Linked DNA regions of Homo sapiens: regions 1 and 2 are each linked to region 3. The links come from fine-mapping of genetic effects on gene expression. A gene starts in region 3. Each other region holds a variant in brackets. All regions are shown on one strand. Distances are from middle to middle. Region 1 has its middle 25 kb from the start of FOXD2. Region 2 overlaps CMPK1 (cytidine/uridine monophosphate kinase 1). Region 3 holds the start of FOXD2-AS1 (FOXD2 adjacent opposite strand RNA 1).

The links. PIP is the estimated chance that this variant, and not a neighbour inherited with it, causes the effect.
Region 1: its variant is the best candidate, but not a certain one, in a credible set for the expression of FOXD2-AS1 in whole blood (TOPMed, PIP 0.61).
Region 2: its variant is the best candidate, but not a certain one, in a credible set for the expression of FOXD2-AS1 in whole blood (INTERVAL, PIP 0.63).

What each region holds. Positions count from the first base shown.
Region 1 is chr1:47,461,746-47,464,504 of GRCh38, forward strand. No RefSeq gene overlaps it. Among named protein-coding and RNA genes, the nearest start is that of FOXD2, 25 kb to the left of the region's middle. The variant C/G (reference allele first, on the strand shown) is at 1,580.
Region 2 is chr1:47,342,555-47,345,313 of GRCh38, forward strand. The region is part of intron 1 of CMPK1 (cytidine/uridine monophosphate kinase 1); the gene reads left to right. Among named protein-coding and RNA genes, the nearest start is that of CMPK1, 10 kb to the left of the region's middle. The variant A/T (reference allele first, on the strand shown) is at 1,134.
Region 3 is chr1:47,433,216-47,435,974 of GRCh38, forward strand. It overlaps FOXD2-AS1 (FOXD2 adjacent opposite strand RNA 1), which reads right to left and starts at 1,426. Exons shown (of 1, transcript NR_026878.1): 1 at 1-1,426. The region is part of intron 1 of LINC01389 (long intergenic non-protein coding RNA 1389); the gene reads right to left. RefSeq lists an enhancer at 911-1,426.

The sequences.
Region 1 (2,759 bases), 29 kb after region 3:
TTGGATGTTGAATTCACTCATGTAAAGTCCTGCCTGTAGTGATGGTTCCTTGGACAGGTGTGTGCCTGGAAGCAGCAGGAGGGAGTTCTTCCATCTTAGAGTAAGCTGTGACTTTCAGGTACTTTCTACTCCTTCATGACATCTGAGACAATGGTTTCAGGTCTGTTGGATAAGCCTTGAACATTCTGCATGTAGCTCTAAGCACACCCCAGAGAGGTGTGAGGACCCTCTACAGACAGGTAAGTCCTCACACCATGATGCCTGTCTTTCTGATGTGGGACCAAGTGCTGGGCCACCTGGGACAGTGGCTTCTAAAGCAATTGGCTGAGTGGAGATCATCCTCAGCATGGCAGATGGCTGCCCCTGGAGCTGCCTGTCATGGGATCATCATATGAGAGTGTGGTGAGCTGGAGCAAGATCACATTACGTCTTCTAAACTATACCTCTACTCTGCTCAATAGCAAAGGCTTTCCTACTCCCCATCAGCACTGAGACCTGCCCATCCTATTAGGGCAAGCAGTAACCTCACCGAAGGAGCTAACACCTCAGGAAATTCCAATCATTTGTCCAAGAGTTTTGAGACATGATTGCATCTTTGACTGGCTTCTCATTATCTTTGTGATAATGTGCTTGTTGAAATTACAGAGTTTGATTTAGCTCTCACTTCCTTTTAAACGTACTCTACAAAGAACACCGTCTTACACTGATTTGGCCCCTTTCCACACTGAGTTTCTGTATCTTACCAGATTATTTTTGACCAATAGTCATTAATGAAGACTTTTCATTGTTCCAATTCCTGAACAATTTTTGGGGCAGTAGATGGAGAGATGAATTTTGCTGGTTGAAGCTGTACCTGTTTGCCATGCCATGTTTTGTCTGTCAAGCAACCCATTCAACAACTACTAAAACAATATCAAAAGACCATCCAATATAGTAATTTTGAGCAAAATAAAGTTAAAAATGATCTGGCTCTAACCATAAGAATGACACTGCTCAACACAAACATCTAGATCTGTGCAGTTAACACTGAGACTTTCCAGACCAGTAGCCTTTTACAATGTCAGAAGTACCCTGTACACATCATGGCGGTCCACTGAAGTGCCCCCAGATTTGCTGTGGCATGGCACGTGTCAGACATGATGATCCTTGTATGGCACACTGGGACAAGTGGAAGGAAAATTGCAGGTCAGAGGCCCTGAGGCTGTGGGGTTGGTGATGACACCCACTGTGGAAAGTGAAATAATGAGATTCAGCACAGGGCTGCCCACAGAGAAGCCCACCTAGCCCAATGAGGGGTAGTTTAGAGGACAAGGGGATTATGGAAGGTTCTCTGAAGGAGATGGGCATTGGTTGAAGGACTTAAAGATTTAAGAGAATTTCCCAAGTGGAGACGGTAGTGGAAGGGAGAGATGGATGGTTATTGAGCGCCGCTCTGTGCAGGCATTGTAGGAAGTGATGGAGCAGGCACTCAGGCAGAGGGAAAGTGAGCAAAGGGGTAACAGGGAAGGCTTCGAACTCCTTGCAATTGGGTAATTACTTTTTAATTACTATTTTGAGAGCAGGGACCCTATCCACTCAC[C/G]CCTGTATCTCCAGAATCTACAACCACATAGTAAGTTCTCAGTCAGGTGCTTGTCTCCAGCAGAGCCTTGAAGGATGGTAGGATTTGGAGAAAGGAAGAGGAGAAGGGAGGGCATTCCTGGAGAAGAAGTCATGTGGGCAAAAGCACAGAGGTAGGAAAGCATGAAACATGTGTTGAGATCAATGAGGAGCCTGGTTTGTCTGGAAAAAAGGGTTTGTGCCAGGGAGTTGTGGGCGATGAGGTTGGAAGGTGGGCAGGAATGCAACATTTTCCAGGTTGGAGTTGAGGCCACAACAGTAATTCACTGCAGAAAGGAAAGGGAAAGGATTGGGCCACAGAGGATTTGCTGTGTGGCCCATGGTGGGATGGGGGTAAGTGGGCAGGAGTCTGTGGCCACCTCCTGGAGTTTCTGTCCAGCTCCTTGTCTCTTCTGGTGTTATGAAACTGGGAGTTGGGGGAGGGGCCTCAAATGTCATTTTTTTTCTATGAATAGGGACACACACACACACGCACACCAATCCTAAGAATGATTTTTTTTCCACTTGTCAAGAGCCAGAAAAAAGCTGAAGGTATAAAGTTCAGAACTGGCAGGGCTGGAGGGCAGACAGGGAAGGGTTGAGGATCTTTGAGTTTTCTAAGCTGTGGCAACCATTAGAAGCTGGGGAAAAAAAGAAAGAAGAATTTCCACGAAGCATCTGCTATGGCCTGTGGAAGGCTCTATGGAGTTTCTGGAGGAGGGTGTGTGCTTTCTTTCTGCAGAGTCTTGGCTACTCTGGGGGTAGGGATCTGTGCCCACTAGACTCCTCTTCAGGGTTGGAAGATGAGGCCCTGGATGCCAGAGCTAGAAGCACCTGGTCCCACTGCCAGAGCTGCACAGCCTGGGTTCAAGTCCTGGCTCCACAGCCTGCCAGCTCTGTGATCTTGAGCAAGCCATTTAACCTCTCAGTGCCTCCCTTGCTTTGTCTACAAAGCCAGAGTAACAACATCTACCTGCCAGGGGTTAGGACAGTTACATGAGCTAATGCTTGCTTGGAACAATGCACGTGGTAACTGTGTAATAAAAGTTATTATTATTATTAATTATTATTATTGAGAAAATGGAAGTAATACTTGCTTAGAACAACGCATGTGGTAACTGCACAATAAAAGGTATTATTATTAATTATTATTATTGAGAAAA
Region 2 (2,759 bases), 91 kb before region 3:
TATGAATATCATCTTGGAAGATTATTTTAATTTTTACAAATTTGTTAATCTATTTTCTGAGATTTTTGAGAATCTTTTCCTTTTTCTCTTTTTTCTTTTTTTTTTTTTTTTTTGAGACAGGGTCTCACTCTGTTGCCCAGCCTGGAGTGCAATGGTGCCATCTCAGCTCACTGCAGCTTCTGCCTCCCGGGTTCAAGAAATTCTCCTGCCTCAGCCTCCCAAGTAGCTGGGATTACAGGCACTTGCCACCATGCCCAGCTAATTTTTGTATTTTTAGTAGAGATGGGGTTTCACCATGTTGGCCAGGTTGGTCTCAAACTCCTGGCTTTGTGATTCACCCGCCTCAGCCTCCCAAAGTGCTAGGATTACAGGCATAAGCCACTGCGCCCGGCAATTCTTTTTTTAAAGTGAAATGGCATAATTAACCATTTGTATTTTTTTTTTTTTTTTGAAACGGAATCTTGCTCTGTCGCCCAGGCTAGAGTGCAATGGCGTGATCTCTGCTCACTGCAACCTCCGCCTCCCGGATTCAAGCAATTCTTGTGCCTCCACTTCCCGAGTAGCTGAGAATACAGGCACATGCCACCACACCCAGTTAATTTTTGTATTTTTAGTAGAGATGAGGTTTCACCATGTTGGTCAGGCTGGTCTTGAACTCCAGACCTCAAGTGATCCACCTGCCTTGGCCTCCCAAAGTGCTGGGATTACAGGCATGAGCCACAATGCCCGGCCCTCTGTGTATTTTTAAAAAATATTTTCCTGGCCGGGCGCAGTGGCTCACACCTGTAATCCCAGCATTTTGGGAGCCAAGGCGGGTGGATCAGGAGGCTGTAATCCCAGCTACTCCGGAGGCTGAGGTAGGAGAATCGCTTGAACCTGGGAGGAGGACGTCGTAGTGAGCCAAGACCACACCATTGCACTCCAGCCTGGGCAACAGAGTGAGACTCCGTCTCAAAAAAAAAAAAGTCTCAAAAAAACCCACAAAACTTCCCTGTACTTGTCATTTATTCAGAAAACATTTTTTGAGAGCCAGGCACTGTGATATTGGTTGTTGAGTTGAGTCAGAAGACGCAGATTGGCCAGTTGCAGTGGCTCATGCCTGTAATCCCAGCACTTTGGGAAGCCAGGGTGCA[A/T]GAATTACTTGAGCCAAGGAGTTCAAGACCAGCCTGGGAAACATCAAAAGCCCATCCCTGCATGGTGGCGGGCGCCTGTAGTCCAGCTACTCAGGAGGCTGAGGCAGGAGCATGGCGTGAACCCAGGAGGCGGAGCTTGCGGTGAGCCGAGATCGCGCCACTGCACTCCAGCCTGGATGACAGAGAGAGACTCCGTCTCAAAAAAAAAAAAAAGCCCATCTCTACAAAAAATTAGCTGGGCCTGGTGGTGCGTGCCTGTGGTCCCAGTTACTTGAGAGGCTGAGGTGAGAGAATCACCTGAGAAAGAGAATTCAAGGCTGCAATAAGACATGATCACGCCACTGCGCTTCAGCCTGTGCAACAGAGCAAGACCATGTCTTAAAAAAAAAAAAAAGACGACAGACCCTGCTGCCAAAAGTTTACAATGTAGTGAGGAAACAAGGAAATTAATTGGTGATGACTACAGGATAGAATGATAAATCCTATGATATAAATATACCAAATATCCCATTTAGGGACGTTTAGGGAAGGGACATCTAAATGTCAATTTAATGAGTCAGGGAGGGCTTCCCAGAGGAGGTGATGTGTATGAGCTCAATTTTGAAGGACAGTGGGAAAGAAGCAGTTGGGAGATGGAAAAACGCTTAGAGCAGTTATCCTTGTATAGGGTTACTGAAGGATTCAATTCTGAGTAAAGTGTGAGAGGGTAAACCGACATACGTGAGGCTGACTCAAAAAACACTCCCTTGAATGCAAACAGATATGAAAGAACTTTGCAGGTATTAAAGTTCAACTGTAAATTATTATTATTTTTTCTTTTTTTTTTTTTGAGATGGAGTCTCACTCTGTCACCCAGGCTGGAATGCAGTAGCACAGTCTTGGCTCACTGCAACCTCCACTTCCCGGGTTCAAGCGATTCTCCTGCCTCAGCCTCCCAAGTAGCTGGGATTACAGGCACACACCACCATACCTGGCTAATTTTTGTATTTTTAGTAGAGATGGGGTTTTACCATGTTGGCCAGGCTGGTCTCGAACTCCTGACCTCAGGTGATCTGCCTGCCTCACCTTCCACAGTGCTGGGATTACAGGTGTGAACCACCATGCCCGGCCTAACTGTAAATTATTTCAAAATTGTTTATCTTTTAGTTTTGCCTCCCTAACTAGAGTGTAATGTCTTTAAGGGTGGGGACCCTGTCTTTTCCCTCTCATTTCACTACACGTTTTTCATTTATTTATTTATTTATTTTTACAAGGACTCTGGCTCTGTTGCTCAGGCTGGAGTGCAGTGGTGCGATATTGGCACATTGCAACCTTTGCCTCCTGGGTTCACGCGATTCTCCTGCCTCAGCCTCCTGAGTAGCTGGGATTACAAGCGTGCACCACCATGCCCGGCTAATTTATTATATTTTTAGCAGAGATGGGGTTTCACCATGTTGCTCAGGCTGGTCTCAAACTCCTGACCTCAGGTGATCCGCCTGCTTCAGCCTCCCAAAGTGCTGGGATTACAGGCGTGAGCCACCACGCCTGGCCTTCATTCTACTACATGGTTTTTGAAATGCCTTAGTCATCCTTCAGATCTTAGCTTAAAGACTCTCAAACGTTCTCAGTTTATGATGCCCTTAGTGT
Region 3 (2,759 bases):
GCCCGTCACTCAGGGTCGCAATCCGCCATACAGAGCCACTGTTGTCCAGAGGACAGACACATGAGGACAGAGAAAGAGAGGCTCGGCCCAGCTGGCCGAGAAACCCACAAGAGCGCACTTAGACATGAAGTTCTCCTTCCCACATACCTGGAAGCGTCCCCCACTGCCCCTGGCCGCCTCTGCTCTCAAGAGCGTGGAGCCTTCCCTACCACTCCGGGAACTCTGTGATCTTCAGGACCGGCGGGTTTCAAGTGGCGCTGTTTTCGGTCTCTCCTGAGGTCGCAACCCTCTTCCCACGAACAACAGCCCACAGGCTCCGCAGCTCGCCTTGGTCTCAACAACCGCGCAGTACTTGGGTGCTTAAGCGAGTCCCCTACCACATAGTCCAGGGTTGGGGGCGGGGGAGATGGGGCTGGGAGGGGACAGTGGCCAGGAGTAGCGGAAAGAGAAGATGTAAATTCACTCTCGAACTTTGCCCGGCAGACGCGTGGTGGTTATCTCCGCGCCAGCGCCTGAAGTGGGCAGGTGGGCTTCAGAGTTGAAGGTGCACACACTGGAGCCCCAGTCATTTCTGTGCATGGGGAACATGTCTGAGGTCTGCCTCCGCGGGTCACAGGATCTGGAGTCTCCCGCCTCCCACCTGGGCTAAGGGAGCTGATCGCTTCTGAGCAGCCGAAGATCCGGGTGGAGAAAGGGGCCGGGAGCTGTACCGGCTGAGGCTAGACAGCTATCTCGCTTTGGAGCTGCAGCTAGGTCCAGAGTGGGAAGGAGGCTCGCGCCGGCTTTGCCGCTTTCCCTGAGGGTGTCCAGTTTTGTGAATAAAATTAGAGAAATCTGCGGGCGTAGTTCCCCAAGCCCAGCTCAGGCTTCCGTTTGCAGCCCGGCGCTGGCCGAGCTCGAACCGCTGAAAAGGGCCGCGTGCAATCGTTCCGCTGTGCCTCAGGACAAACTCCGCTTCAAGCCAGTGCCGCTCTCCGGCAGTTTCCTGATTGACTTAATTAGATCCGCATAATCGCTGGAGGGCTTTTCTTTCCCAGAGCCGAGAACAGCTCATTTATGGGGACCAAAAGGAAGAGAGGGAGAGACGACCCGGACGCCACTGATAGCAACGTACTCTTCGCAAAAAACACTCAGTAACTAGTGGAAAAGCCCAACAGGCATCCCCCTCCGCCCGCCAACGCTTCCTCCCAATTGTTCTGGGCTGCACGAGGGAGATGGCCGGGCCGTGGAACAGATGCAGAAGGAGGCCCGGCACGACCAGAGACGCTGTAACCAAGACCCGCAGAGCCTGTGGCTTCCCGCTCTTTGGCGGCTGCAGCAGGCATGGTGCTGGAGCCCAAGGCTTCTGGGAAAGAGTCCAGGTTTTCGCGGAGGGAGCGACGGACTCACGCGGGATCGCAGGCACTGCTGCAAGACGCCGAACAGGCTGAGCCGGTAGGCGAAAGAAGTAAGGGTCACAGAAGAAGCAAAGAAAACGAAATAAATTCCGAATCCCGCGGTGGCCCTTCTCCCAGTCCCCAGTGCACTTACTCCTGACACTGTTGAAAACAAACTGGCCCAGAACCTTGGAAGGGAGGAGAGGCTACTAGAAATCCCTCTATACAGAGAGGAGCTCGGTTAGAGAAACAGCTATTTGGATAAACAGAGGGGTTCTGGGCTAGGAACCCGGACACGTAGGTCCAACCCAGCTTAGCGCCCCTCAAAAGCCTGACAAGTAACATGATCTCCTGGACCTCAGTTTCCGCTCCTGTAAAAAGTATGTATGTGAAGGGTCTGGATTCTCCCTCCCCAACCCTGCAGAGCAGAAGCTGGGGATTCTGTACTCCCCTTCCCCAGTGTAGGTCTCAGTAGCAGTGAACGTGCAGCAAGGCCAGGCAGAGGCAAGGGCTGGCTGCTGTAGCTGCTTGGTAGAACTTCTCTGAAGCAGGAAATTTGGGCAGCAAGTGCCCTGGCTAGTCTCACCCTGACCAAAGCCTGGGGAGCCAGGGGAGTGCTGGCAAGGAAGGAAGCTACTGGTTCCCATTTGCTGTTTTAGAAACGAGGACATTCAGGCCGGGCAGGGTGGCTCACGCCTGTAGTCCCAGCACTTTGGGAGGCCGAGGCGGGTGGATCACCTGAGGTAGGGAGTTTGAGACCAGCCTGACCAACATGGAGAAACCTCCTCTCTACTAAAAACACAAAATTAGCCGGGCATGTTGGTGCCTGCCTGTAATCCCAGCTATTTGGGAGGCTGAGGCAGGAGAATCATTTGAACCTGGGAGGCTGAGGTTGTGGTGAGCTGCTGAGATCAGGCCATTTTACTCCAGCAGGGGGGCAACAAGAGCGAAACTCAGTCAAAAAAAAAAAAAAAAAAAAAAAAGAAAAGAAAAAAAAGAAATGAGGACATTCAGAAGGTGAAATGGAGTAGGATGACGCCAACACTGTTTTTCTCTCCACTTGTTTAGATACTAGCAGAGTTGAGCTGGGTTGGAGTTGGTGTGTGGTCCATGGTGTGGGGTATCTGTGAGTGGGGTTCTGGGAGTGTGAGACAGATATCCATGTAGTCAAGAGCAAGCTTGAGGTATGTGTAGGGTTGCCAGATAAAATAAATCTGCTAAATCTAGCAACCCTAGGTATGTGAGTTTCCTTGGACTCATGCAAGAAGCTTCTCTCCAAGACCTTTTTCCCCGGACAGTCTGTCACCCAGGAAATTCCAATTCCAGGGCTACTAGTCCCTGTCCAATTTGCTGTCCATGGTTTGAGGACGAGATTTCTCTTTT